4 linked regions of the Homo sapiens genome follow. The protein of the gene in region 1 purifies or fractionates together with the protein of each later gene. This does not show direct contact. Each region holds a gene or a part of one and is shown in the gene's direction. Other genes may lie near its edges.

What was found.
Region 2: the proteins of WFDC2 (region 1) and PDIA5 purify together in Homo sapiens (affinity purification with mass spectrometry; 2 studies listed by BioGRID and IntAct, with this or other methods). This does not show direct contact.
Region 3: the proteins of WFDC2 (region 1) and WDR91 purify together in Homo sapiens (affinity purification with mass spectrometry; 2 studies listed by BioGRID and IntAct, with this or other methods). This does not show direct contact.
Region 4: the proteins of WFDC2 (region 1) and CRTAC1 purify together in Homo sapiens (affinity purification with mass spectrometry; 2 studies listed by BioGRID and IntAct, with this or other methods). This does not show direct contact.

Annotation. Positions count from the first base shown.
Region 1 is NC_000020.11:45,465,844-45,472,760, forward strand, and holds the start of WFDC2 (WAP four-disulfide core domain protein 2 precursor), read left to right. Parts: upstream 1-3,909; 5' UTR 3,910-3,938; coding exon 3,939-4,017; intron 4,018-4,545; coding exon 4,546-4,689; intron 4,690-6,917.
Region 2 is NC_000003.12:123,119,019-123,126,043, forward strand, and holds part of PDIA5 (protein disulfide-isomerase A5 precursor), read left to right. Parts: intron 1-5,047; coding exon 5,048-5,139; intron 5,140-5,253; coding exon 5,254-5,325; intron 5,326-7,025.
Region 3 is NC_000007.14:135,208,509-135,215,793, reverse strand, and holds the start of WDR91 (WD repeat-containing protein 91), read left to right. Parts: upstream 1-4,267; 5' UTR 4,268-4,291; coding exon 4,292-4,414; intron 4,415-6,038; coding exon 6,039-6,218; intron 6,219-6,795; coding exon 6,796-7,003; intron 7,004-7,285.
Region 4 is NC_000010.11:97,901,602-97,908,626, reverse strand, and holds part of CRTAC1 (cartilage acidic protein 1 isoform A precursor), read left to right. Parts: intron 1-479; coding exon 480-614; intron 615-3,812; coding exon 3,813-3,958; intron 3,959-6,987; coding exon 6,988-7,025.

The DNA of each region.
Region 1 (6,917 bases):
TTTTACTGCTTGCACCCAATAGCACTAATTGATTCAGTTTAGCTCTCAGAACTGAAGGAAAGGCTAAAAGAACACAGCTTGGAAAGAATGGTAAAGTCAGAACTGAGTTCTTCCCAGGACACCTCTGAGTTAGCTCCATAAATTTTCAGGTCTTTTATCATTCATTGCTCAAGATTACAGTTCTAGGAACAGTATTTGATTGGCCACTCTGCCTGGGGGTAGGGCAGACACATTAATTGACAGTCTCCCTGGCCCCACCTGTCTTGGTCTGGAGGAAGTTATTTCCTCCAAAGCAAACTCAGGGTGATTTATCAGAAAAAGGACAAATGAATGCTAGGTGACAAAACAAAATAGTCAATATATCCAAAGAGAGAGGTTTCCATGGAATGAAAGGAAGTTTGACTGAGTCCAAAAGTCTAAAAGGAGAGGCCCATTGCATGGTTAAAGGCACCTTTTTTGTTCCTGGAAACTTCTTAAATCTTCACCGTTAACTTGTTTACAGTCATTTTAGAGTGGGCATGTCTACAGCTAATTGACATCATCTACCACTATAAACTTTTCCTTCTTTCCTTTCTGCTTCTTTTCTTCCTCCTCTTCCCTGATATATATTTTTTTACACTCATGAAGTCAAGTCCAAAACTTTGGATGCATCATCTACGTTAACCTCAGATAGATCTGTGTGAATGTGTATAATATTGAAATAACTGGGACAACACAAGTAATTTGGCAAGAGTCTTCCCTCTGATTTACTGGCTGTGTTTCCTCCAGCAAGTCACTTTGCTTAGCTGAATCTCAGTTTCTTAACGTGTAAAATGGGAGTAATAATACTTAATCCATAAGATTGCTAAATACATATAAGCTATCTTTCACCAAACACTTACTATGTGCCCACTCCAGAGGTCACAAATTTAAATGTCCTCCTGGGGTCAGGTGAGCACTGTGAATGGAACTAGTTGCAGAGAGGGAGGATGGTGGTGGTGGGGATTATGGGAAACTGGAGGGAATGCTTCCCTCATAGAAAAAGAGTAGCTGTACTTAGGTTCTGGTTTTCAAAGTATGGTCCCTAGCCCTGCAGCATTGGCATCACCTGGAAACCTGTTAGAAATGCAAATTCTCAGGTTCCAGACCTACTAATCAAAACTCTGGGGATGGGGATCCTGCAATCTGTATTTTAATAAGCCTTCCAAGTGATTCTGATGCATGCTTAGGCTGGGCACTGTGGCTCACACCTGTAATCCCAGCACTTTGAGAGGCCAAGGCGGGCAGATCACCTGAGGTCAGGAGTTCGAGACCAACCTGGCCAACATGGTGAAACCCCGTCCCTACTAAAAATACAAAAATTAGCCGGGTGTAGTGGCGCCTGTAATCGCAGCTACTTGGGAGACTGAGGCAGGAGAATCGCTTGAACCCAGGAGGCAGGGGAAGGGAAGGGAAGGGGAGGAGATGGGAGGGGAGGGGAGGGGAGGGAAGCCTGGGGGACAGAGCAAAACTCAGTCTCAAAAAAACAAAAACAACAAAAAAAATGATTCTGACGCATGCTCAATTTTGAGACCTGCTGCTCTAGCTGATGGTTGTTATATCTAAGATTGCAGGACTGTGTTGCCAGATCTTTTACTTTTTCCAAGAGAAGCTAGAGGTTTATTTTTATATGAAATTCGCTACTTTTAAATCTTGGCAACTAATTTAAAAATTTAAAACATACTGTGTAGTTAATAATGTATGTGCTCTAGCCAGATTTGCAACCTCTGATTTATGCTTTTTCCTTTAACCCTTATAATAATCTTATAAAACCCTTATAATAATCATCCAAGACTGTTAGGATGATACACAGTTTATGCAGGAAGAAGATGCAGGCCCAAAACATGAAGTGTTTCTCTAAGTCACATAGCCAGAAAGTGGCCATGGATGCATTGTCCCTGATTGGGCATGGATGCATTTGGTTCTAAAGCCTCTGCCCTTTTAAATGATGTAAAGAGAATATCTATAACTATACCTAGCACGGAACTTGGCACCACAAAAGCTAAACATCTGATGCCATTGACTGATGAAAATTCCTTCCCCATCCTTCTGCCTGGCCCTGCCACTCTCCCTCAGTCTGTATTCCTGTAAGAGAGAGCCAATCAATAGGGTGCTCATAAGGGCCTGGGAGGAGCAAGGCTGGGCAGTTTCCTGGCCCAGGGAGCTGAATAGGGCCCGGAAGAAAGCTGTTGGCAGCAGTGCCTGGGGCTGAATGTACAGTAGCCAGCTGGGTCCACGGGCTAAAAACTGGCTGCTCACCCCAGTGTTCTCTTTGTGCCCTAGACTGGGTTTCACTAGCCTGTTATGGGCTGTGTTCCCACCTGGCTCCTGCCCTCATTGTTGACTGAGCTCAGAGTAAATAGCCCTGGCCCCTCCCAATAACGTCCCCAGTCCCCAAGTTGAGCATGAGAAGCTGGGGGAGGTGTTCTCAGCATCCATTTTGGGGACAGTGGCCAGATGTACTCACATCACCAAACCCTACTCACCTGTCACTATCATCCCAGTGTTCACTGCCCCAGGGCCCCTCTAGCCTCCAGCAGCAAAGACCTCCTGGGGCTTCTAGAACCTCAGATCATTGGAGCAGGAAGCACTTCTTGTCTAACTCCCTGGGTAACTCTGTTTTGGCACTTAACCCCCTGGATTCTAAAGCTTCATTTATACTTATTGGTCTCCTTCGTCACAGGAGACACTTATCTGTGGAGCACTCATGGCCATGTATCCAGTACCTATCATGGGTCAGGCCTGGAGTCCCTGTGTCAATCAGTGTGGATCTACTCTCAATGCTCCCAGTGAGTACATGGTTGTTCCGTGGCAGGAACGTTGCATTTGTGTTCTCACTGAAGTCCCATATAGGTGTCATTTTCACTGATGATGTGGCAGCTCAGATCCAGGAAAGGATTCATTCCAGGGCCCTCAGGTGGGAAGTGGTGGAGGTGGGAGTCAGACCCCAGACCCTGTCACCCCTTCAAGACCAGTGCTGGAGGGCCCCTTTTGACGACTTTCTCTTCACCAAGCGTCTTGCCCTGCATATGTCACACAGTAGGCACCCAGTGAATATTTACGACGGAATGGAAAAAACAAGGGCCTGGAGGGAGAGACCTGGGTTCAAAACCTTATTTGTACAGCTTTGCAGGGGACCTTGTGGTGGAGGTGCGGTCCTAAATCCCTAAACACTCAGTTCCTTTGTCATATACAGCTGATAACAGTAACTCCCCGGTCAGAGGACCGGCGACAATTCCTTGAGACAAGGAGCACAGAGCCTGGCACAGTCAGCCCTGATCAGGGGCCGGTAGGACAAAGAGAGGGAGACAGAAACACACACCCAAACGGCTTGAGACTGCTAGGTGCTTCACCTTCCTGGGCCTGTTTCTGATGAGGAGGGTTTGTTTATTAATAATAAGTGCTATTTCTGTAGCCCCTACTATGTGCTCTGTATCACTACCCTAGCCCTCCATCAAGAGGGATCTGCCCTCTCATCTGGCTGACCCCAAATCGAACCCTTTAACCCGCATGCTCTACTGCCTCCCTGCGGGCCCTGCCTTATCCTCCTCAACCGCCCACTGGGGACACTCTGGAGAAACCTCGGAGTCTTGGAATAGAAACCCAGGAGCCCTGAGCCTTGGCCCTCAGGCCCCAGGAGGGAGGTCAGGAGGGAGGCGTGGACAAGGGTCCGGCCGTAGCTGGTCCCGTCCTGGAAGCTGCTTAAGTTCCTGGTTCCCACCGGGGCCAAGAGTGATACCTGATCCTGGGGGATTGTGAAATGACCTCATGTGGCAGCCCGCCCGCGGTGCCCGCAAAGCCCTCCACCCTCCCCTTCCCCGCTCGGCTCCACCCCTACCCCACGCCCCCTCCCGCGCGCGCGGTTAAATCCCCGCACCTGAGCATCGGCTCACACCTGCACCCCGCCCGGGCATAGCACCATGCCTGCTTGTCGCCTAGGCCCGCTAGCCGCCGCCCTCCTCCTCAGCCTGCTGCTGTTCGGCTTCACCCTAGTCTCAGGTGAGTGGGGCGGGGAGAGGCCCGGCGCCTAGAGGGGCCGAGCCACGAGCGCCAGGATGGAGCCAGGCGGAGGCGTAGCCTCTGGAGGCTGGGGAAGTGGGAATTCCGGGGGCGGAAGTGGCGGGGACCCTTGGAGCCTAGGGTGTGGGGTCCAATGTGCTGGAGGTGGAGAGACCACTGATGGCTGCAATTTGGGAGGATTCTGTGCTGAACGCGGACACTCCGTGGCTGCAGTGGGCTGGGGGTGGGGGCTGCTCTGCCTCGACCTCGGAAGCTCCGAGACGCTCAGCTGTGCGGCGTCCCCTAGGGCTGAGATCTGAGGGCCCCGACGCCAAGGGTTAGGGAGCTCTCGTACTCCCAGGGGTCAGGGACTCCTGGTCTGGAAGAAGGAGTCTCTGGGGGCTGTAAGGGGACTCCTAGGGCCAGAGACTGAGAATTCCTTGGGGTTAAGGTTTGGAGCAGGAGGTGGGCATCCTCTGGGGCTGGCGCTACGCCCCACCCTCGACTGTCCCGGGCCTCCCCTCCCAGGCACAGGAGCAGAGAAGACTGGCGTGTGCCCCGAGCTCCAGGCTGACCAGAACTGCACGCAAGAGTGCGTCTCGGACAGCGAATGCGCCGACAACCTCAAGTGCTGCAGCGCGGGCTGTGCCACCTTCTGCTCTCTGCCCAATGGTAACCCCACGGCGGCCGAGCGGGAACGGGGCGGGGCCGCGCTGGGCTGGGAGGAGGTGGGAGGGCCCGGGTTCCGGGAACAGGGGCGCCCCCGGACCCGGGGACCCCCGGGAAAGTCAAGGCGGTTGAAACCAGATCCGTCAGTCCTCTCCCTCGCACGGCCCAGGGGTAGACAAAGGCGTCGTTGAAACGCAGCCAAGGGGGGGTCCCCACCCCTAGCTGGGATTCGAGTCTCTGGTGCATGACGGGCTTCCGGGCACGCACAGCCGGGACATTGTTCCCCGCGGCCTGGGGACCCGGGGCCGCAGTTTCCTTCTCGAACCGGCCGAAGCCTGCCCTGCGGGAAAGCCCGGAGCCTGGGGCGCTCACCTCTCCTCTTGGAGTCCCTCCCTGGGGGCCTCCCCCAGCCCTGGGGAAAGACTGGGAGAGCCTGGCCTGGCAAGATTTTCCCCAATTCCTCTGTCCAGGCGGAAAGGAACTTTACAGATTTAGGAAAATGCCCCGCTCATCTTAAAGATGTGTAAGGGAGCATCGGTGAGAAAAAAATGTTCTTGCCCAAGGTCACACCGCCATCCCATGGCTGCTGGAGTCATAGTGAGGGTTCAGCTTTTGCCTTTCAGGCCAACTGGCTGAGTGATTCGAAGAAAGTGAGGAATCCTCCCTGGACACTGTATCGCCCTTCGTCGTCTTTCAGTCAATCTCTTCCACTCTAAGGATTGAGTGAGCGCGAGCTGGGGACTCTCTCAAAGGTGCTTGCTGGAGCTGCAGTCTCCACCAGGCTATCAGAACAGGGGGTGGCTTAAACAGCATGGAATCTCAGCTTTCCGTTCTCCAGAGGAAAATGCTGAGGATTAGAGGCAGGGATAGGACCTGGAGAGAACCAAGGTACTGTAATGATGTTCTTTATCCAGAATACAGCCCCTGTGACTTTTCCTCTCTGTTATTTCCTTGAAGATGCCAGCACAGGCTGGGAAGGTTTGTAATACGGTGACCCAAGACACCGATCAGCAGGGAGGTGGTAAGTGGAGGGGGACTGGCAGCCCACCAAGGGCAGCTTCAAGGTCATGAGTCCCCTCCTCTGGGCCAGGGAGAGGAGGACCAGAAGGAGAGAGGAAGATTTGGAGAGAAAGCAGGCAGCAGCCAGATGAGAGAGGTGGAGGAGCAAAGGAGGGAGTCTTTGCTGTTTGATGGATGAAGAATTTGTTCCCTTATCTCAGATGGACAGACTGAGGCAGGAAGAGGGACAAGGTCAGATGGCCTCCTGAGCCAGGGAGGCAGCCTGGAGGTTTGAATCCTAGTTCTGCCATTTTCTAGTTATGTGATCCTGAGCATGTTGTTTACCTCTCTGAGCCTCTGCTCTAAGATGGGAATAATTCCAAACTCTATAGGATTGGCATGAGGACTAAATGAAATAATGCATCTAAAGTGTCTATTAGTGAGAAGATACTCCATACACAGTGGCTTGTTTTGATCATAAATGGTTCCCTATTTATTTCCAGGGCAGCCCAATATTACAGGTTCCTACTCCTTTCAAGAGAATGAATTTCTTTGTATTAGGAAGTCAAGACTGTTGGCAACTTAACAACATTTTTTTTTGTATTTATGCTTTAAGTTCTGGGGTACACGTGCAGAACGTGCAGGTTTGTTACATAGGTATACATGTGCCATGGTGGTTTGCTTCACCCATCAACCCGTCATCTACATTAGGTGTTTCTCCTAATGCTATGCCTCCCCTAATTCCCAACCCCCCGACAGGCCCTGGTGTGTGATGTTCCCCTCCCTGTGTCCATGTGTTCTCATTGTTCAACTCCTACTTATGAGTGAGAACATGCGGTATTTGGTTTTCTGTTCTTGTGTTAGTTTGCTGAGAATGATGGTTTCCAGCTTCATCCATGTCTCTGCAAAGGACATGAACTCATCATTTGTTATGGCTGCATAGTATTCCATGGTGTAGACGTGCCACATTTCCTTTATCCAGTCCATCACTGATGGGCATTTGGGTTGGTTCCAAGTCTTTGCTATTGTGAACAGTGCTGCAATAAACCTATGTGTGCATGTGTCTTGGGCATTTGCGTTGGTTCCAAGTCTTTGCTATTGTGAACAGTGCTGCAATAAACCTATGTGTGCATGTGTCTTTATTGTAGAATGATTTATAATCCTTTGGGTATATACCCAGTAATGGGATTGCTGGGTCAAATGGTATTTCTTGTTCTAGATCCTTGAGGAAT
Region 2 (7,025 bases), on another chromosome or scaffold:
AGTGGGAGGATCACTTGAGGCCAGGAGCTAGATACCAGCCTGGGCAACATAGTGAAACCCCATGTCTACAAAAAATTTTAAAAATTAGCTGGGTGCAATGGCATACACCTGTAGTCAATGCTAGCTACTTGGGAGGCTGAGGTGGGAGGATCACTTGAGCCCAGGAGTTTAAGGCTGCAGGGAGCTATGATTGCACCATGCTCTGCACAACAGAGTGAGATCCTGTCTCTAAAAAAAAGAAAAAATGAATTCCAGCTTCTTCTGCCTGGGCCCAGGTCTAGAAATATAAAAGTTACCCATTCCAGTTCCCTCAACATTACAGAAAAGTCAGGGGCGTTGTCTGCAAAGCTGGGCAAGTCAAGCTGTGACCAGGTGTTGGCTGCCTTGGCCTAAGACATCTGGGTTGTGTAAACTCATTTCTTTGTTTGTATATTTTCTTGCTTGGGGTTTGTTTTGTTCTATTTTCCCTTTCATTTCCTAGAAAAGCATCTTCTGGAAAGTTCTAGCCCTTTCCCAGCTACATAAAGAGGGAAGGGCCCTGGCCGCTGCACGCATCACCCACGCAGGAGGCCCCTAGAGGCTAGGGCTTACTCTGCAGGGGCAGCTCCCCAGAAACTGGGGACCTGGCTGGAGGGGTTGAGTGACCACAGGTGTCAATTGCTTTTTGTCTTCACACACAGAAAAGAGGTGGGACTAATAAATGGGCTGCTATTCCCCAGAAATCAAAGTTCACCCCCTCCTCGCTGCTGAAACACAGCTGGATTAGGGCCTTCTGTCACTTCTTCATCTCTGTCATCTTTGAGCCTTTTTGGCTGGGTCTGTCTCTGGCAAGGGTCAAAAATCTTCCTCCTCTACAGATTTTTTGGGAGGTGTTCAACCTGATTGACATCATTAGGAAGGAAGGCATGCCAGGTCAGGGATGCACAGCCTTTGCCATTTCCAAACTTACAGCTGCCTCTTTTGTGCTGTCATTGACGTCTGGTGACTCATCGCGTCTGTCCCATCTACTCCTGCTAATTGACATCCTCATTAGCAGCCACGCTGCCCCCATCTCAGAGCAGCCATCAGAATGAGCCCTGTCTCCATCTGCCTCTTCCCAGCCTTGCCAGTTATTGACATCTGCACTGAGCCTTTGAGCTTTGCCTAGTCTTTGGTGGACCTCGGCCATGATGGGCCAGTCTGGGTATAAACACCATGAAATAGAACCATCATGACGACAGATTTGTACAGACCAGGCTCTAGTGCTGGCTCTTGCTAACCAGCTGGGAGATCTTGGTCCAAGCTCCTTAGCCTTGGAGCCTCCATTTCTCCATCTGTAAAATGGAGATGATAATGCCAACCCTGCCCACACTGGGTTGTGGTGAGGAACAAATGGGCTGTGTGGAAGAAGCCCTGTACCCCACAGAGCACTCATAGACACAGATGACTGATCCCCTCTCTTCCCTACAGCTGCCCTGCACCACATTCCTTCCACCGGCTAGATGGGGGTGCTCCCAAGGTTCCGCTTTCCTGTTAACACATTGGAGCAAGGTTTTGTCTTATTACAGTCTACCTTCCAGTGACCACATCTCTGTCCATAGCTTCAACAAAACGTAGCTCCATGGAGCCCAAGTCCTTCCCCTAAGTGCCAGTGCCACGTGTCAGATGGCTTGCTTCACAGCTCCATCTGGATTTTTTCCCTTGTGTCTCAAATGCATGTCTGAAAATTCAGTATCTTTCCATCTGGCAGACTGTGAACTTTGCATTAAGTCCTTTCCCCAGGGGCCAGGCTCTTTCCCCACCCCCCACCTCCACCTCTCTTTACTGAGGCATCATCAGGCATCTTCCTCATGCACCCTTCATCCTCTCCCTGCCCACCAGCCCTGTCCAGTGGGCTATGCTAGCTGGTGGCCAAAGGCTGCTGACTTGTCTCCTGACCACAGCATTCCCTCATAGCTCGTCCTTTCTGCTTCGAGAGATACAACTGGTTTGAGGGTTGCTTTCTTACTTAGAAACCCTCGGGAGCTCTCCGTCACTTCCTGAATACAGTCCCGATTTCTTAGGTATTTCAAGCCTTTCCCAAAGTGATCCTGGCCAACTCACTCAGCCTTTTCTTTCATGTCTTCTCCTTTCTGTGTATCCTGCCTTCCAGTTAGATGGAAATGTGCTCCATTTCTTGGGCCACATCTTTCTTTGCCTTGCCTCCAGTTCCCCATCCCGGGACGTCTGTTGAAATCTTACTCTCCTCTGAGTGCAAGCTCACATGCAGCCCACGCTAAGAAGCTGCCGTGATGGTTCCTGGCAGCAGGGCTGAACACACAGAAGAGCATGTCACGCCAGCTGAGTGGCCCCAAGCATGCAGATGGCAGTGGGGAGCAGGGAGGCTGTGTTCTTATCTTCTCCACAGGCCGAGACCAGGTGTGTCACCTCATTTGACTTCACAAATTCTAACTCCAGAAAGTGTTTGTATGTAGTTTTTCAAAAATTTTTGCCTCATTAACTAATAGATGCCCCCAAAATGGCACAAAAGTGCTACAGAAACTTGGAGAATTAAGAGCTCACCCCAAGCGAAGGTGGTTTGCAAAGGCTGCCCAGAGACGTGAGGTTTGATTTGCCTTAAGGGATGGGTGAGTCTGGAGGGTCGCCAGGAGGCGGGGGATGGGCAGCCTCAGTAAGGGGACTGGAAGGCACCAAGTGGGGGCCAGGAGAGAACAGCGAGTGTTCCAGAAGTGTGGGCAGAAATAGAGCACCTCCTAGTCCTAGTAACAAAAATAGCTAATACATTTTGTGTTATTGATTATCTTGTATTATTTCATTGAATCTTCTCAACAACCACATGAGGTGGCTGCAGATGAGGAAAGTGAGACGCAGAGACAACTGTGACTCATTCAAGGAAATGCGCGACCCCATGGGGAGTTGGGACTCAAACCCAGGCATCCTGAGTCCATGCTTCCAGCCACTGCATGTTGCTGCTGCACTCAGCAAGATGTCTGAGAAGGCAGACAGTCCAACTTCCTTCCTGTGCAGAAATCTCAGACTGTCTTATTCCTGGGAGAATAAAAAATCTAGACCCTAACAGGTGTACAATGAAGAGTTTTGTAAGAAAGAAAGATTCAAAAATGAAATAGGTAACATATGGGCATTGAATGTGGAGCTGGATTTTAGCCTATATTCAATGGAATTGGAAGGTTTTGTGCAGGGAAGTGATGTAATGAGCGAGGAGGACGTGTAAGATTAATCTGTGGTGAATGTGCACTGACACTGGGGAGATCAATTAGGCAGAAAAAAAAAGGACTTTTAAAGAAGACAAATATTACTGGAACAGGCCGCTGGAGCAGTCTGGGAAATGAGCAGAATGACTTTTATAGAGCGTTCCAGGGCTTCAAGTAAATTCGAATTCAAATTTATTCTTCCTGTATTATTTGCTGCATCCTAAAATGGGCTAGGAAAAAAAAAACAGTGAATTTAGTGAGCATTTATTGTGTCCTTGCTGTATGTGAGGCCTTGTGCTAGGGACTTAAAACAATTGGAAAGATATCCAGGTGCCCCTAGGAATGGAGAGGCCAGAGGCACAGTGGCTCCCATCACCAGGAAGACTTGGTAGGAAGATGACAGTTACTGAGCTCCAGTTTTGTGCTAAAACCTCTCATCTCATTTAGTTCTCTAAAGAGCCCTTTGATGGTCACATCTTCCAGCAAGGGACCTCAGTGAGGGTGAGTGACTTGCCCAAGGTCACATGACTCATAAGTGGAAGCTGTCTTTGCAATCAATTTATTGTCCACTGAAACGGTTATTTATTTTCCTCTCTCTCTGTGTCCTTATGTATTATTCAGTAAAGTTCAGCTTCCTGGGTTTCTTCTCTCTGCTTCTGTAACTACTGCTGGCTTTTTTTACTTACTTTTCCCTCGCTTCTATGCCACTCTGCTTTGTGGAACAACCTTTGTGTGTCGGGCCATTCTAGCTGTGTTCTCTGGTAAGAACAGATTCAAAGTCCTGGCTGGGCATGCTGGCTCATGCCTGTAATTCCAGTGCTTTGGGAGGTTGAAGTGGGAGGATCGCTTGAGCCCAGGAGTTGGAAGCCAGCCTGGGCAACACAGCAAGACCTCATCTCTACCAAAAAGAAAAATATACTAGCCGGACATACTGCCACATGTCTGTGGTCCCAGCTAATCAGGAGGCTGACAGCGGAGGATTGCTTGAGCCCAGGAGTTAGAGGGTGCAGTGAGCTATGATCATGCCACTGCAGAGGGAGTTTTAGGGGATTCCTTATATGAGTCAGTCTTAGTATTTAGCTACATCGTCGGTTACCCAGCTACTAAAATACTCTTTCTGATTCAGGGATAGTGGACATGTGGACCCCTGGAGCCAGAATATGTTCAGAATTCTGAGATGATGATCCAGCCAGGCTGTGGGTAATGGTCACCAACAGGAGGAAACACTGGGGAGACACAGCACGGCCTGGAAGGAGGAGAGTTAGGCAGGTGCCTCGTTTCTCATGTTGTGTTATGAGAACCACACGGCCTCCCTGGCCACATATAAGCTGTGAGGTTTGGAAACGTCACACTCAAGCCTAGGTGAGCAAACCGTGAGGTATCCAGGAAGGTGTCTAAGGACGTTGTACAGAGCTGAATTGGTGTATGAAAGCCACTTATTTCCATAGCCTAGGAAAGAGTACAACCCGAGTTGACATGAACAGAGAAATAGGCGTAACACATCCTTGGCAGTGGCCCCTCTCTGAGAGTAATGTGAACTTGATGGCAAGGCCCGGCTTCTTCTGCAACCCTCAGAACGTTGGTTTTGCTCTGGGGTGGTTCTTCCTGCAGGGAGGCAGAGGGAGCAGGCGTGCGGAGTGCAGCACTCGGCCCAGCTGCCTGACTTCTCCAGCGCCAGGTCATGATTCCCGGCTGGCTTCGCTGGCCTTGTTTCTCAGCAGCCCTGATGCACATCAGTCTGTGGGGCTTTGTCCCATATGTCTTTCTGGTGGGACAGCAGCTGGACAGATGGCGTGTGGACTAGAGGGTGTCTGTGGGGCACAGGCTCCACACGGCTCTTCTCCGCTTCCTCCCAGGTGCTGGCCGGGATGAATGTCTACTCCTCTGAATTTGAAAACATCAAGGAGGAGTACAGCGTGCGCGGCTTCCCCACCATCTGCTATTTTGAGTACGTCCCCCACTTTCCTTCTAAAGCTCACCTCCCTCCCTGGTGATTGACCATAATCTCAGGGTGGCATTTGCATCCGTGACTGAGCCCACGTTGTTTCTCCACGTTTCACAGGAAAGGACGGTTCTTGTTCCAGTATGACAACTATGGGTCCACAGCTGAGGACATTGTGGAGTGGCTGAAGAAGTAAGTGGGGTGTGTGTGTGTCAGTGGGCGTGGACCCAGAGGGCGGGGCATCTGCCGGGCCTGAGGGTCGCAGGGCTCTGGCTGGAGGTTGGGGGAAAGAATGAGGAAGGGAATTGTGGTACTGCCTACACAGCTGTCTCTGGCTTGAGTCTAGGCCACTGTGGGGATTGTGGGAATTTAGGTTGCAGGAGCCATGAGGATTTGGTGTGACTTTGGCCTGTGATGATCAGACCTGCCTGGGTGTTGGGTGTGGAGTCTGTCTCCCCTACCTCCCGTCTCCACGGGTTGGAACTGGGGAGGGGCTGCCTAAGCCTGTCAGCTCTTCTGGAATAGTCAGGGCCTTTCTGAATTCTTCCCACATTTCACATCAAGTTTCTCCTCAACACATCTATCTGATGGATAGAGGTATTTCTCACCCAGGCTACCAGGTTTGAGAGAGGTTCCACTGCAGGTCTCTCTGAAAATAGAATTGTCAGTTGAACACTTATTTCAAACACAGCACTGTCTTAGGTGCTGTGAAGGTACTAAGAAATATTCTAATGCCTTAGGTTTGCTGAGTGCTTTACTGTTCAACCCCCACAGGCATTGCTTCATTGCAACCTGTGATCCCTGTTTTATAACATGATTAGATCCTTGTAATGCCAAACCCCACCACCCTGTTGGCTCCTGCCTCCTTACCTGGAGCCTCCACTGTGCTAGGCCTGCTGCTTTGTCCTGCCAGATCACCCCATTCCCACTTCTCACCAGCACTTCCACGACAGGCTCACGATGTCCCCTTCTGGAAGCCTCCCCAGGCCACCCTCGCTGAGCACGCACCCTACTCAGGCTGCGCTCTGTGTGTCACGAGTTTGGCACTTACCAGCCACTGCTGCTTCATGAGTATTTGTGCATATGTGCTGGAGTAACAACAGCCAACATCTTTTGGGCTCTCCTTTGTGGCTGACATTGTTCTAAGCACTTTACATGGATTCTCATTTAATCCTCACAACAGCACTGTAAGGAAGATGTTACCGTTCTCTTCATTTTATGAATGAGGTCCCTGAGGCACAGTAAAGGGGTGGTGCCGGTAAGCAGTAGCAGGGCCCTGATGGGTCCCCGCCACCAACCCAGCTCCCTGCAGCCCCGACAGTCCAACTTAGCCTCCTCAAGTTCTGCTCGGAGCCCCTCCCCTCAGCTGCCGGCACAGTGGACATTTATTGACATCATTACCTTAGGAACACAGTGTGCAAACCCCAGGGTTAAAGAATTAGTTATCCAAGATATGGAGGTTGAAAATGTGTATTTTCAAAATGGGAAAGAAGGGTGGGTTTTGTACCAGGAAAAAAATGCACATGAAACTAACTGTTAGATTTCTAAAGGTGGAGAGTCTCCATCTTCTGTTCTGCCTACTCTCGGGAGATAAGGCACAAGTGCTAGCACATGTTTGCATCATGTCTTTTATTTCTTGGAAGCATTCTCACATCTCTGTCCCCATCGGCTACCTCATTTCCAGCCCCTGCCTGGGAAGGCTGCTGCCCATTATCATGTGTTCATTGTCTTAACCTGGGCCTTTGCTTTCCTGTTTTCCTTTTTCATTTGATAATAAGCGTGTCCTCTCCTCTATCCAGACACATCTCATTCTGCTTTGGGAGAAGGTCTCAACAAATAGCAATCTCATTTGTCACTAGAGCATAAAATCTGTCTGCTTCCCTTCCCTTCTC
Region 3 (7,285 bases), on another chromosome or scaffold:
TGTAAATCTGAATGAGACATATAACTGTCACACAGGGACTATTCGTGGTAACACTGGCATAAATGATATCCTTTCCACCTATGTTGGAAGACTATTGTAATCAAAAACTGCCTTTTAGTTTACCAGGAGGAAGACACTGGAATGCTATGTTTCCATGTAGTCAAATGCTGAGGACACAAATGGTCTTTTTGTGAGCTTTGTACCAGGAAAAGCGGAGTGGGATGCCTATCGGGGCCCAATTTTGGGATGGTCTAGTGCCACCTTCTCATTTTGGGGATGGCCTTGCCATAGGTCAGAACATAGGACAAGTGCCGGCTGTGTTGCAAATGAGCATGGGCCCTGCCCATGGCACTCTCTGGTTTCTGGGTGCCTGTGTTTAAAACCTCTTCCGACTGACATAATATTTATTTTGGAAGTGAATGTCCTCAACCAAGGCCAGTGAGCCTAATATCTTTTCTCTCTCTTTCCACTGATTTTGCATCCTTGGACTCTAAACCATCTTAGGTTGATTTTGCCGTTTAACTCTCAGTGGGAAGTACAATTTCTTCATTCCCAAGATCTTGGAGGGTAACTCACTGTAGCCTCTAAATACTTATACCTTTCACTATTGTAAATAACTTCCATTATTAAAGATAAGTTGCACTTTTATTAAAAAAAACCCCATTCTGCATAAATCTTATTTTTAATGTTTAAATTAATTTACTTTCTTTTTTAAAAAAATAGAGACGGGGTCTCCCTATGTTGCTCAGGCTGGTCATAACTTCTGGCCTCAATCGATTCTGCCACTTGGGCCTCCCAAAGTGCTAGGATTACAGGTGTGAGTCACTGTGCCCAGCCTTTTTTTTTTTCTTTCAGCTTATTTTTAAAATTATTTTTTTAAGGGAAATTAAAGAAATTAAGTGGGATCACTGGGCTAAAGAGTAGAAACATTTTGGAAGCTTTGATAATCTATAAATTGACTCCTAGAAAAGTAGCTCCTTCTGAAGCTTAATGACAATGCCCCTTTCATTTTATGTTCACCAACAGTGGGCAATACATTTTAAAAATTACTAATTTGAGAAGTGAAAAAGGGTATCTATTGTGTGTCACTGATTTTCAGTGAACGAAAGATTAACATATACATAGGCTGCCTCCTACAACAAGCATGAGGGCTACCAATAGGAAACCTGTGAATTACTGGATGGATCATTGTGGGCCATTTCCAGTTTTCAGAGGTGCTCATGACTTTTTAAGGAACTGACTACAGTAAGAAAAGATTTATCTACCAAAGGCTATGGCGATGGATGCTCTCTACTGAGCATGTAACTTGGCACTATCTATGAACCAGACAGTGGGCATCCAGCAGACAATGAATCTGCTAGTGTCTTGATTTTGGACTTTCCACCCTCCAGAACTATGAGAAATAAGTTTCTGTTGCTTATAAGCCACCCAGTTTATGGCATTTCTAAAAAAAAAAAAAATTGCAGCCCCAAAGGACTAAGACAGTGACATTTGAGCAAATGCGTGAAGGAGGAAAGGCAGCTATCCCTGTGGGTATCTTGGAGAAGACATTCCTGTAGAACAAACGGCTTGTACTTAAGCTCTGAGGAGCTGCCTTTCATTGATCAGAAAACTAATCTTAGCTGGTTTTACAGGCTCTGGTCTGGGAAGTGTCAGGGCAGATGGAGGTGGGGGAGGTGAGAACTATGGTTGCAGACTTCAGGTGCCCTTAGGGAAATCTACTTCACAACTTTCCTGTAGGTGGAAGCTTTGGTGGTTGCAACTTGTCCAAATTTTCCAAGTTCACTTTGATGATCTGAGATCTCAAAGTAGGAGTTGGTCTCCCAGTAGTCACAGTGGTGACTCTCCTTTCCTGCCCTTGAGGCAAGTTTAGCTGCCTGGAGGGTACACTTGTGGAGACAGGTAGGGCAAACAAAGAGGGCAGAACAAGGTCTGTCTCGTCCTGCTGTGGCTTGCCCTGTGCTATCTTTTTGGCTTTCTCTAGTGTAGATCAGAGCCCTTTTGGAGCTGAATTTCCATAGAGTAGGAGTGGAGGGTCTGAGCAGAGGGGCAGCAATGATTCTGAGTTGTATTTTGACAAACACGAAAAGTCATACCATTCGAGGGAAGGAGAAGGGAACACTCCATGCATTTTACCAATAGGCCATTCACTGTGCTAAGCGTTTTACATACACTGTCTTATTAAATCTTCATTACTACTGTGCAAGGTGGGTGTTATTGTCACCATTTTTTTTTTTTTGAGACGGAGTCTCGCTCTGTCGACCAGGCTGGAGTGAAGTGGCGCGATCTCGGCTCACTGCAAGCTCCGCCTCCCGGGCTTACGCCATTCTCCTGCCTCAGCCCCCCCGAGTAGCTGGGACTACAGGCGCCCGCCACCACGCCCGGCTAATTTTTTGTATTTTTAGTAGAGACGGGATTTCACCGTGTTAGCCAGGATGGTCTCGATCTCCTGACCTTGTGATCCGCCTGCCTCCGCCTCCCAAAGTGCTGGGATTACAGGCGTGAGCCACCGCGCCCGGCCTATTGTCACCATTCTGCAGAAGCAAGTCTCAAAGATATTGGCTATTTTCCTACTTACAAAAATACGTGCACCTTGTAAAAACTTCAACAATAAAAAGAAAGTAAAAAACAAGAAGTCCTTCATAGTCTCACCTCTCAGATAAAACCACTCCAATTGTCACTTGGTATCTGCAGGGGGTTGGTTTTAGGACCCTCCCTAGAAGACCAAAATCCATGGATGCCCTGATGTAAAAAGGCCTAGTATTTGCATCTAACCTATACACTTCCTCCTGTATACTTTAAATAATCTCTACATTGCTTATAATACTGAATACATTGTACATGTTATGTAAATTGTTGTTATGCTATATTTAATTTGTGTTTTTAAAAATTGTATTCTTTTTTAAACTGAGACGGTGTCCTGCTCTGTCACCCAGGCTGGAGTGCAGTGGTACAATCACAGCTCACTGCAGCCTCGACCTCCTGGGCTCAAGTGATCCTCCTGCCTCAGCCTCCCAAGTAGCTGGGACCACAGGCAGCACCACCACGCCCGGCTAATTTTTTTTTTTTTTTTTTTTTGAGACAGAGTTTCGCTCTTGTTGCCCAGGCTGGTATGCAATGGCGCGATTTCGGCTCACTGCAACCTCCACCTTCTGGGTTCAAGCGATTCTCCTGCTTCAGCCTCCCGAGTAGCTGGGATTACAGGCATGCGCCACAACGCCCGGCTAATCTTGTATTTTTAGTAGAGACGGGGTTTCTCCATGTTGGTCAGGCTGGTCTCAAACTCCCGACCTCAGGTGATCCGCCCACCTCGGCCTCCCAAAGTGCTGGGATTGCAGGCGTGAGCCACTGCGCTCCGCATTTTTTTTTTTTTTTTTTTTTTGTGGAGATGTGGTTTCGTCATGTTGTCCAGGCTGGTCTCCAACTCCTGGGGCCAAGAGATCCGCCTACCCTGGCCTCCCAAAATGTTAGGATTACAAGTGTGAGCCACTGCGCCCGGCTATTTTTTATTTTTAAAACTTTGGAAAAAATATTTTCAATCCTCGTTGGTTGAATCCGTGAATGCGGAACCCGAGGATGCAGAGACCCGACTGCATAGGAACTTGGTGTATAATCTTCCTGAATTTAAAAAATGTACACACATACATACCTAATTTTTTTTTCACAAGAAACCAGGACTATAGCGTACATACACTGCTATGAAATTTGCCTATCCTAGCAGTGCATCTTGGTTATCTTGCTGTGTAGCCAATTCGTCTTACTAATGAAAGCAGAGATTTGGGGGAGTTAGCGCTCTCTGAGGACACGCGTGTTGTGGCTTCACGCAGGTCACTCTGCTCTTAGGGCTCCAGCTTCCTCCGTGTAGGAGGAGGGCAGGGGACCGGGAGCTCTGCGATGTAACGCCAACCAACAGGGCGCCGCACCCCCTGCCCGCCTCGGGACTACCTGGGATGTTCTTAAGATCCAGTCTTGTTTGACGTGGGTGGCAGCCGCCACTTTCAGTAATTCAGACAAAGCCGCCGCCGGCGCCGCCAGGACCTCCCCTCGCCACTCCTCGGGAGGGGTAAGGGTGACTCGAGCGGCCAGGCGGGCTGGGGCTGGCTCAGGGGCGGGGCCTCGGGCGGGGAGCCGGCCGAGGGGCGGGGCCTCAGGCTGGTCGCCCAGTGCGTGCGGGCTGGTAGGCCTGTCGCGGCGTGACGTGCTCGGCGCCCGCGTCCGGCCCCGCCCCATTTCTCCCAGGCCCCGCCCCTCCGTCCCTCACCGCACCACCCCTAAAGACGCTAGCGCTGCGATGGCGGAGGCCGTGGAGCGCACTGACGAGCTGGTCCGGGAGTACCTGCTCTTCCGCGGGTTCACGCACACACTGCGGCAGCTGGACGCCGAGATCAAGGCGGACAAGGAGAAGGGGTTCCGGGTGAGAGGCCGGCGGGAGCGGCGCGGGCAGAGGCGGCCCGAGGGAGCCGGGGAGCGGGCTTCCCCCCAGCACTGCCTCCGGGGCGAGAGCGGCGCTGTCACTCGCGCCGGGGCGCCGGAGACCTCAGCGCGTCCGACCCCAGCTTGACGGATGAGGAACTGAGACCCTCAGACGGACAGGACCTGCCTGAAGCCGCCCCCCGAGTCAGGAGCATCGCCGAGGCTGGAGCCCCGATGCCCCGGCTCCTGGTCTAGGGTTCTGTCTCCACTCCAGCCTCCTTGGCCAGGATGGCGATGAGGTTTTAGGAGCCGAGGTTAGGTAGATGGTTGCGTTTTGGCAACAGATATTCGTGTTGGCTTCCAGTGGCAGTGGAAGCAAAGAAGTCTGCAGTCCAAAACGTTAGCTGCGTTCAAGTATCTGCGGTGTTTGTTTAAAATGGCCTCGTCAGGGACTCATCGGCAATTTTGCTTCTGCAGTTGTGGAAGACCTCATGGCACATTAGAGAAACCCAAACTTCCCCTGCTCTAAAATGATTTTCCATTGCGAGGTTCTTGGAATGTATATGTGTGTGATTTGTATGTTTGTGTGTACTGACTTCAATGAGAGGCAGTGAGCTAACAGCAAGAGCACTGGAGGGGAGTTAGGAGATCTGGTTTCCTGCCTGGCCAAAGTTAGTGGCTACTTAGTGGCAAAAGCAAATCATTTCACCCCTCTGGGCTTCAGTGGCCTGATCTATAAACTAGGGGCATTGGATTGGTATTGATATCCAAACCCTTTTCCAGATTCTGTACTCTGCTGTAATTGCTCCTCACAAGAAGGTGACTTCCTTGGCTGACACTCTGAGCAGCTACCACGGCTTCGTGGAACTTTGATGACTTGAAGGAGTCAGTCCATGCACCTCCTCATGATCCTTGGGATCTGGGAATTGTGGAGATTGTCTCATAGCTCTTCTTCACCCCACCCCCTTTTTTAAAAATGTGAGGTAACTGAAACTACAGTTAAGCAACACTGCCATTTTTTTTTCTTTTTTGACAGAAAGTCTCACTCTGTCGCTTAGGCTGGAGTGCAGTGGCACGATCTCAGCTCACTGCAACCTCTGCCTTCTGGGTTCAAGCGATTCTCCTGCCTCAGCCTCCCGAGTAGCTGGGATTACAGGCGCGTGCCACCACGTCCAGCTAATTTTTGTATTTTTAGTAGAGTCGGGGTTTCACCATGTTGGCAAGGCTGGTCTCGAACTCCTGACCTCAGGTGATCCATCCACCTCAGCCTCCCAAAATGCTGGGATTACAGGCGTGAGCCACGGTGCCTGGCCTGATGACACTGCCAAATTGATCAAGTAAGTCAGAGGCAGATCCAAGATCTGGAGCCAGATCTCTTAGGTTCTGGGCCAGAGCCCTTTTACACCTGAAATTTCCGTGCTTGCTAGAGGGTCAAACCACTTCTCTAACATCAGAAAATTACTGAAAAACCGTTGCATTAGTATGTTTTGAAAATTTTATAGATTGCTAACTTACAAATTTTTTTTTACACCCAGAAGCCATGACAAGAGGAAAAAGCTTTATTCCATGGAGGGGAGAATTCCCTTCTGTCCCTTACCACCTTCTCCATCCATGTTTCTCGCCAGGTGGATAAGATTGTGGACCAGCTGCAGCAGTTAATGCAGGTGTATGACTTGGCTGCCCTTCGGGATTATTGGAGCTACTTGGAGCGTCGGCTCTTCAGCCGCTTGGAGGATATATACAGACCCACAATCCACAAGCTGAAAACCAGCCTGTTTCGATTTTATCTTGTCTACACAATCCAGGTGCCTGTTGATTCAGGGGTTCTGCTTCCCTTGGTGGAAGGAGCTCTTTGATCCCAAAATAGATTTTCTTCCAGTTCCTAGGGAGGAATCTGTATGTGACTATGGGAAAGAGTGCAGCAGTTACAGTGCAATTATTTTTGACTGTTTTTCTTCTTTTTTTTCCTTGTCGTCATCTGTAGATCATCTGACTTGTCTTCCCCATTCCTATTTCCTTTTTTATGTTAAGCATGTAAGCTTAAAACAAAGGTGGTATTTTAAAGAATATAAGTAGCTGGGTTAAAGTTTGAGTAATAAAGATGATAGCTGACCTGGAGGAATGAGTCACTTAGTTATTTGAACATCAGCTAGGGATTAATTTTTAGGATGGGATTTATCATTAGAACTTCAGCTTAAACCAGCTTTGAAATGACAAGTTCCTTGAGAAAAGAGTGATGATTTCCTTTATATTATGGAATTTTATTTTGCCACTTACCTGGCAGGCTGATAGTCAAAGGTTGTCTGCTGTGCAATGATGAAGAGTCTTACCTCTGGATTTCTGTCTCTCCTCCCTCCTTGCTACCTCCTTGTGTCTTGGCAGACAAACAGAAATGACAAGGCTCAGGAGTTCTTTGCAAAGCAGGCCACGGAACTCCAGAACCAGGCTGAGTGGAAGGATTGGTTTGTCCTGCCCTTCCTGCCATCCCCGGACACCAACCCCACCTTTGCTACCTACTTTTCTCGACAGTGGGCTGACACCTTCATTGTGTCCCTGCACAACTTCCTGAGCGTCCTGTTTCAGTGCATGCATATCCTTTCAGTTGCCTGGGGCTGAAGGCCCAGCCTGAGGCACCCAGACCTCAGGATCAGTAGCCCGCTGGTCTCCATACAGGCATTTCTTCTACAAAAATGCCCAGGGACCATTTTTATGGGTCACATGAGGGGGCTGGACAAATTGTGGTTGTTTTTGTCAGTAAGCCAGGGAATCATAAATCTTAGTTCTGACACTGTGCTGCTGAAGTATTAGCTGACGTGTGGGCAGTGACAGTGGCAGCAGTGGGGTGCTAGTACTGGCTTTGTCAGCAGGCACT
Region 4 (7,025 bases), on another chromosome or scaffold:
TCTGCGTACCTATAGCTGGGACCTATCCCTATAGGTTCTTAAAGCTGGGACATACCCAGTGGTCTTGACCAGCATATGTATCACTCAAAGTGAGAGTCGGGAGTCTGTTGGGGTATCTGTGACTTGACCAAAATGGCGTGCTTAGAGTTGGGTTTAGGATTATTGTGGGTTTAGGATTTAAGATGATTGTTCAGCCACTTCTCTTAGAAGGGGAAGGCAGATGCTGGCCTCTGTGTGGGGTCCCCATGCCCGGTTGAGCTCCTTCCTTCCCTCTTCATCAGTGTTGTTACCTTCCACACAGATTCATGGAGACCATGAGCCCAGATTTAGGCTCAGGAAAGCACGGGAAGCAGAATTCCCCCCAGGCTCCTCTGAGGAGCCTCTGCTGCAGTTCCCCTCAGGCCTCAGAGGCAGCCCTGTCCTCCAGGTGGGCCTGGGGCTTGCTTCTGCCACTCACTGTGGGTCGATGTCTTTTCTAGGGGGCCGAGGCGTCAGCGTGGGCCCCATCCTCAGCAGCAGTGCCTCGGATATCTTCTGCGACAATGAGAATGGGCCTAACTTCCTTTTCCACAACCGGGGCGATGGCACCTTTGTGGACGCTGCGGCCAGTGCTGGTGAGTGGAGGCAGCCATGCCCTGTGCACCCTGACCCCTCACCCCAGACCCACAGAGGACTCCAGACTGCCCTGCCCCCTCCAGGATAGTCTCTTCTGGCTGAGGGAGAGCAGGGCAAGTCATCGTCTGCACCACACAGAGAAACGCTGCTTGTCACTTCCTATTCCTTAGCTCCCTTGGCTCCAGCCACAGGGAGTGTTTGCTGCTGGGGAAAGGGGTCTGAAACTCCTGCCAATTGCCATCTTCCAGTACCTGAGATTGCCCGCGACCCTCCAAGTCCTGCTTGTGTCTCTCAGCATCAACCTATCCTCCAAGCTGCCTCTCCCCACCTTGGCCCCCTCCCACATTTATCTTCAACATTCAGTTCAATACAGTGAGCATTCATGGAGCCCCTACTAAGTGTCAGGTTGGCACTGGGAACCAGGGATGCCCACTTGAATCAGGCTAAGACCACCCTACACACAGAAAAGGCAATGACTTTCTAGAAACAGATGTAGACAAAAATATCCGGCTGTAATAAGAAGCAGGATAAAACCCACACAAAATAGTGCCCCAGGCCCCCAGCTGTGCTCCTCCTCCTTCCTCTGCACTCATCCCCCACCCACCTCAGGGCCTTTGCACTTGCCATGGCCTCTGCCTGGACTGCCCTCCCCCTTCTCTACCTGCAGAACGTCGTTTAGCCTTCATCGTTCACCTCAAATATCACCTCTGCAGAGATTTTCCTCACTCCCTGTGCCACCTAGCAGAAACTGGTCCTTCCTCCTCCTGCTGCCCGTGGCATGCACGTCTTCTTCAGGCTCCACATTGCCATCATGGTTTGTCTATGAGCTTTACAAGGACCGGGTCACGGTTCTATTCATTCTTGACGCAAGGCTTGGCCTCCAGTGCCCACCGGTAAATTCTGCTGAATGACAGAGTGGACACTTCCTGCGAGTTTTCGGATGTATGATTGCATCCCAGGCACCCCTGACCATTTCCCCCGACCTTGCCAATGAATGGGAGGTTTGATTTCACCTCCTTCTTGGAGGCATGGGGAAGAGCTCTGGCCTGCAGGAGTGGTGAGTGGGATCTAGACACAGAGATCAAGGGTCCTGCAAGCTCTGGCTGTTGCCAGCAGTTCACATCGAATCCCTGCACGTGTGCCAGTCTGTTCTCTTGGATTCTTGGACTTACGAGTACCTACCACCCCAGCATTCTGCCCAGGAGCTCCACTGTGGGGACTTACTGGCCCAGAATGCACACCCACCCCCAGCTTTTTGCCATTCAGCTCCCTACCTTGCCTTACCTCTTATCCTTCTCTGGCAAGGCAGAAGTTGGACTCCCCTGGCCTGTCCTCCCACCTGGCTCACCCCTCCTAGTGCTATCCTTTGGCAGCAAATTTTCTCATTGCTGAAAAATCATAAAGCAAAGGGGAGGGAATAGTGGAGAAAACCTAGAGGATTTGATAAGGTGTTAAAGAGATGGAAGCAGAGGTGAGCGAACAAGTTGGAGTGGGAGAAGGTATCAGGCGGGAGGAGAGAGGCAAGGTGCTAGGCCCGTAATTGAAAGTCAGAATGATTGCAGGGGTTTAACAAGACATGTCAAGAGGGCATTCATCACCCAAACAGATGCTGCTGTGAAATGCAGCCTGGCACCGATTATTCCCGTGAAAGGGAACCAGCTCCTTGTCAAGGTGCCTCATAGATAGGAGAGAAATGGGCCAACGCAGAAGGCCACCGACATTTGGGCCGAGGAGTTTGGCAGAGAATTAATGGAGTATTAATCCTAGGGATTGGAGGCTGCCCCTAGTCCTCTGCGAACCCTCTTTCTCAAGTCTCACTGCCTCTTCTTCCCACACCTCCCCCAGCTCCTTCTCTCCCCCAGGAGGACACTCAGCCTCCAGGGTTCTCAGGGGGCCCCACCCTGCCTTCTGGCAAGAGCTCCCTGTGTCCTGGGGTCTCTGATCCCCACTGCCTATTACATTGTCCTGTGGTCTGCCATCCCAGAGAGCCTGATGACCCACAGCTATTTGTCCTCTGAAAGAGTCAACGTGGGTGGGTGCTTAGAGTCGCATTCACCTCTGTCTCTCAAGCTATGCACTGGCCAGTGAGCAGCTAGGAGGTCAGCCCATCGCTCTGGGCAAAGCCACCCTCTCTCCTCCCCCAGCACCCACTCCGTGGATAGTATAAGCAGGTGGCATTGGGCACAGAGGCTTCGCTTTCCAGGTCTCACCAGGCATGCTGTGGGCTTCTCTGTCGTGGCTGTAGTATTTCCTCTGCTGTCACCCACGTCCCCGGTTTGCCTTCTGTCATGTTATTTATGTCTGTGCACTCATTCAGCAAGTATTTACTGAAAACTACCAGGCAACCACAGGCCCTGAGATAGATGCTGCGTGTACCCAGGTGAACCAAGAAGAGAGTCTTGACCTCATGGAACGTCAGGGATAGTGGGAAAACCGGACCCTAACAAGTCAACCACAAAGGAACGTAACCGCACATTGTGATCAACATGTTGGAGGAGAAGACTAAGAGGCTGTCAGGGAGATTGACAGGGTGGGCAAGATGAGCTGTCTCAGATGCGTGGTCAGGGAGGGCTTCCCGGAGGAAGTGACATTGTGGCTGAGAGCAGAATAACCAGGAGCTGGGTAACCTAGAGCTAGAGGGAGAGCATCCCAGGTAGAGACCTGCTTGAGCAAAGGCCCAGGAGCTGGAAAGATGGGGAGAGTGGGACCAGATCAAGACCAGATAAGGCGGACAGGACCATGGTCAGGCAGAACCCTGTGCTCCCCAGGCAGGAATTAGAACTTTCCCTAAAAGGATTGGAGGGCATGATCAGCTTAAGCAAAAGAGTGGCATGATCAGCTTAATGTCTTCCAGTGGCAGTGTTAGGGGTGGCCGGGAAGAGCCTTTGGTCCTCCAGAATTTCCCCCAGTCTCCCTCCCCCAACCCATGCCACCCCCCAAACAGGGTAAAAATAATATGCATGCTGGGCAAACACAGCTTGAACACAAGTCTTGGGTCTTCTTTTCAAGCACATGACTGTCCCACTTCCTGCCCCTATAGAGAGCTTCTGAGACTGCAGCTATGTCTCCCGTATCTCCTCCCGGGAACAAGATGAGAGTCACCCTCCCTAGTTGCTTGTCACAGAGCTAGAGCAGGGTGAGTGTTTGTGGAGTGTGCAGGGGATGCCGCCCTGAGAGTTCCTGCCTCTCCTCCCCAGGTGTGGACGACCCCCACCAGCATGGGCGAGGTGTCGCCCTGGCTGACTTCAACCGTGATGGCAAAGTGGACATCGTCTATGGCAACTGGAATGGCCCCCACCGCCTCTATCTGCAAATGAGCACCCATGGGAAGGTCCGCTTCCGGGTAAGAAGGGGCCTCACCCCAGGAGTTCAAGACCAGCCTGTCCAACATGGCAAAACCCTGTCTCTACTAAAAATACCAAAAATTGGCCAGGTGTGGTGGTGCGTGCCTATAATCCCAGCTACTCCGGTAGCTGAGGCACAGGAATCTTGAGCCCAGGAGGCAGAGGTTACAGTGAGCTGAGATCGTGCTACTGCACTCCAGCCTGAGTGACAGAGCGAGACTCCATCTCAAATAAAAAAATAAATAAATAAAATAAAATAAAAAGAAAGGGCCTCTCCCTCACTCCTCCCTACAGCACCACTGCAGGGGTGCCCCGGCATGCCATGGAGCTGCCTCGCTCCTCCCACCAGGCTGAGCAGGGCTCAAGGCTCTCAGGGCCCAGAGTGGGGGTGGGGTGACAAGGAAGGTTACACCAGGGGACGAGGGACTACAGCTGGGCTGCTGTAGGAGCTCTGGATCCAAGAGTAGGAAGAACCAGGTCAGCAGAGGTGGGAGAGCAGCCTCCGAGGTGGGCCGGAGTCCTGGGAGGTGGACTGCACTCTCTGGATCCAGGCCATTTTTTCTGGTGGCTCCTGGAAAGGATCCAGCAGCTAGAGCAGAGAGTGTTTGTGGAGTGTGCAGGGGATACAGGATGGCATCCCCTGCACACTCCACAAAAGCCAGGCCTCAGCTTTTTAGACCTTTTCAGACTGACGTTCAAACCAAGGGCAAAGTGGTGGAGAGAATGGAAGATTGAAGCCACGGAGTTCCCAACAGCTGCCCCTAAAGACAAACAGCAGATGGCAGGCAAGGTGGCCTCAGAGCCCTCTCTGTGCCCCCTCCCTGAGCTGTTGATAGACCGATGCCAAGAATTCTTCAAAAGGGCTGTTAGTGACAGTGATGGAGGTGCCAACAGCATGAGGGGCATGGGTTTGGAACTTTCTCAGGGAGGGCAACAGAGGGCATGGGCTGGTTGAAGCTGATCTCAGGGATCCAGGACTGTTCTGCAGATACCTAGGTCTGCCAAAAACCCCTGAGGAAATGGGAAAGTTCCAGGGTTTTCCTGAGGCTTGAGGATCCCAGGGAAGTCCCCAGGGACCTCATGTCTGTGTAACCAAGAAGAGGCCACCCCTACCAAGTCCCTTCCCTGTAAGCAGCCACCTTGGGACGCCCAGGCCCAGCCACTCCCTCCCTGCTAAGGCTTGAGACTCAGGCTCCCTGGGCTGGGAAGAGGCATGCCCTGAGCCCAGGACAGCTCGTCCTGGGATCTTGGACGATTTCCACCTTTATTCTACTCTTGTTCTCACCCAGCTTCTCAACAGGGATGATCTTGCTGCCCTCCCTCTGGGACATTCAACAATGTCTGGGGACATTTGGGTTTGTCACAGCTGGGGAAGGGAGGGCTCCTGGCATCTAGTATGCAGAGCCCAGGGATAGGGCTGAACACCCTACAGTGCACAAAGCAGCCCCACAACAAAGGATTATCCAGTCCCAAACGCCAACGCACTGAGGGTGAGGAACCCTGTTAATTCTTCCGAAGGCCCCTCCCCAGAGCTCTCAGGAGCAATAATAATACTAATAATACATAAATGCCCTATTTATCAAGTGCCTTCCATGTGTCACGAACTGTGCTAAGCTTAACATACATTATCTCGGAAGCTCAGGCATCGAATAGGGCAACCCCAAGGGGGCTATGGGAGGTTTCCATTTTTATAGGATCAATAGAATCATAACGGCTAGAGATCCTGAGGTCTTTTTGCTCCCTGGCTCTTAAGGCCCAGCTCAACCCACCCAGACCAGCTGGCCAGGCTTATTCAACCTCATTACTCCTCTGATGGAGACAGCCTCTTTCCCTGGCCTCCCCAGAGCAGGCAGCTCGACCGCTGACCCAGCCTGCTCATCCCTGTGGCTGCCAAAGAGGGTCTGCAGCAGGAGGCCGAGAGCAGGCCCAAGTCGGGTAGAGGATGCTCCCAGAGACACCACCTGTACCTTTCTCAGCCCTCTCCACGTGGGCCCTGGGACTTAGACATGTCCCCAAGGTCTTTAGGGGAAAAACCCACCTATGATGAGGATATTACGCTCAGAAATAGAAGATTGCCCTTCCCAGCTCTCCTTCTATTTCAGAGGCAGAAACACACCTGGGACCCTTTGCCTGGTCCCCCAAGGCCCTCCCAGTACTTTGGAGTCCCAGCTGGGCTATCCTGGGCCTGGGGTCTCCCCATTAGTCCTGGACAGGTGTAGCTGATACCGCAACCCCCTCAAAGCAAATGTCTCAAAAAATAAAAATAAAAAGACTCCCAAGAAACAACGTAAGGTAGTAGAGGCAGCCAAATCCACAGCTACAGGTAACCTCTTTCACCTTCCCTGAGGCAGGTGGTGGGTAAGGCAGGACAGGCTGCCAGCGAGCTATGTCATGCCCACTCTGTGCCAGGCATTTTACATGCAATCCTCACAACCCAGGCAGCTATTACTATTCCCACATTACTGATGGGGAAGGTGAGATCCAAGGGGGTTAGTAACTTGCCTAAGATCACACAGCTAGTCAGTGGTGGAGCCTGGATTTAGATGCACAGAGATTTCCGGTGCCCACCCAGCTTCTGACTCAGCACAGAGGAGGAAGGGTGCCTAGGAGAAAGGGCACAGAGTCCGGAATCAGAAGCCCTGGCCTCCCCACTCAGTAGCTGTGACATCGCAGTTCCCCTCCTTCTCCAGGACTCAGTTACCTCACCCGTCAAATGGGAAGGCTAATGTCTGTACTGCCTCAAGGGATGGACAGAAGGGATGGACAGGTGTGATCCAGACTAGGGATCGGCTAAGCACTTCACTGGTGTCTAGCACGACTGTTATTCTTCCCTCCTTCTTCTCGTACAAGCAGCCTGAGGTCTGTGTGGTCCTAAAGGCAGCCCCCAGGTCCTTTGCGGGAGGCAGGAGAGGAGCTTTTGGGTTGGACTGTCTCTTATTTTTAATTGCCCCCACACTCCATAGAGGAGAGCTGGCCTCCCGCCCCAGCCCACTCTCCTGCCACTGACCCCCAGCCTTGTTTCCTCCAGGACATCGCCTCACCCAAGTTCTCCATGCCCTCCCCTGT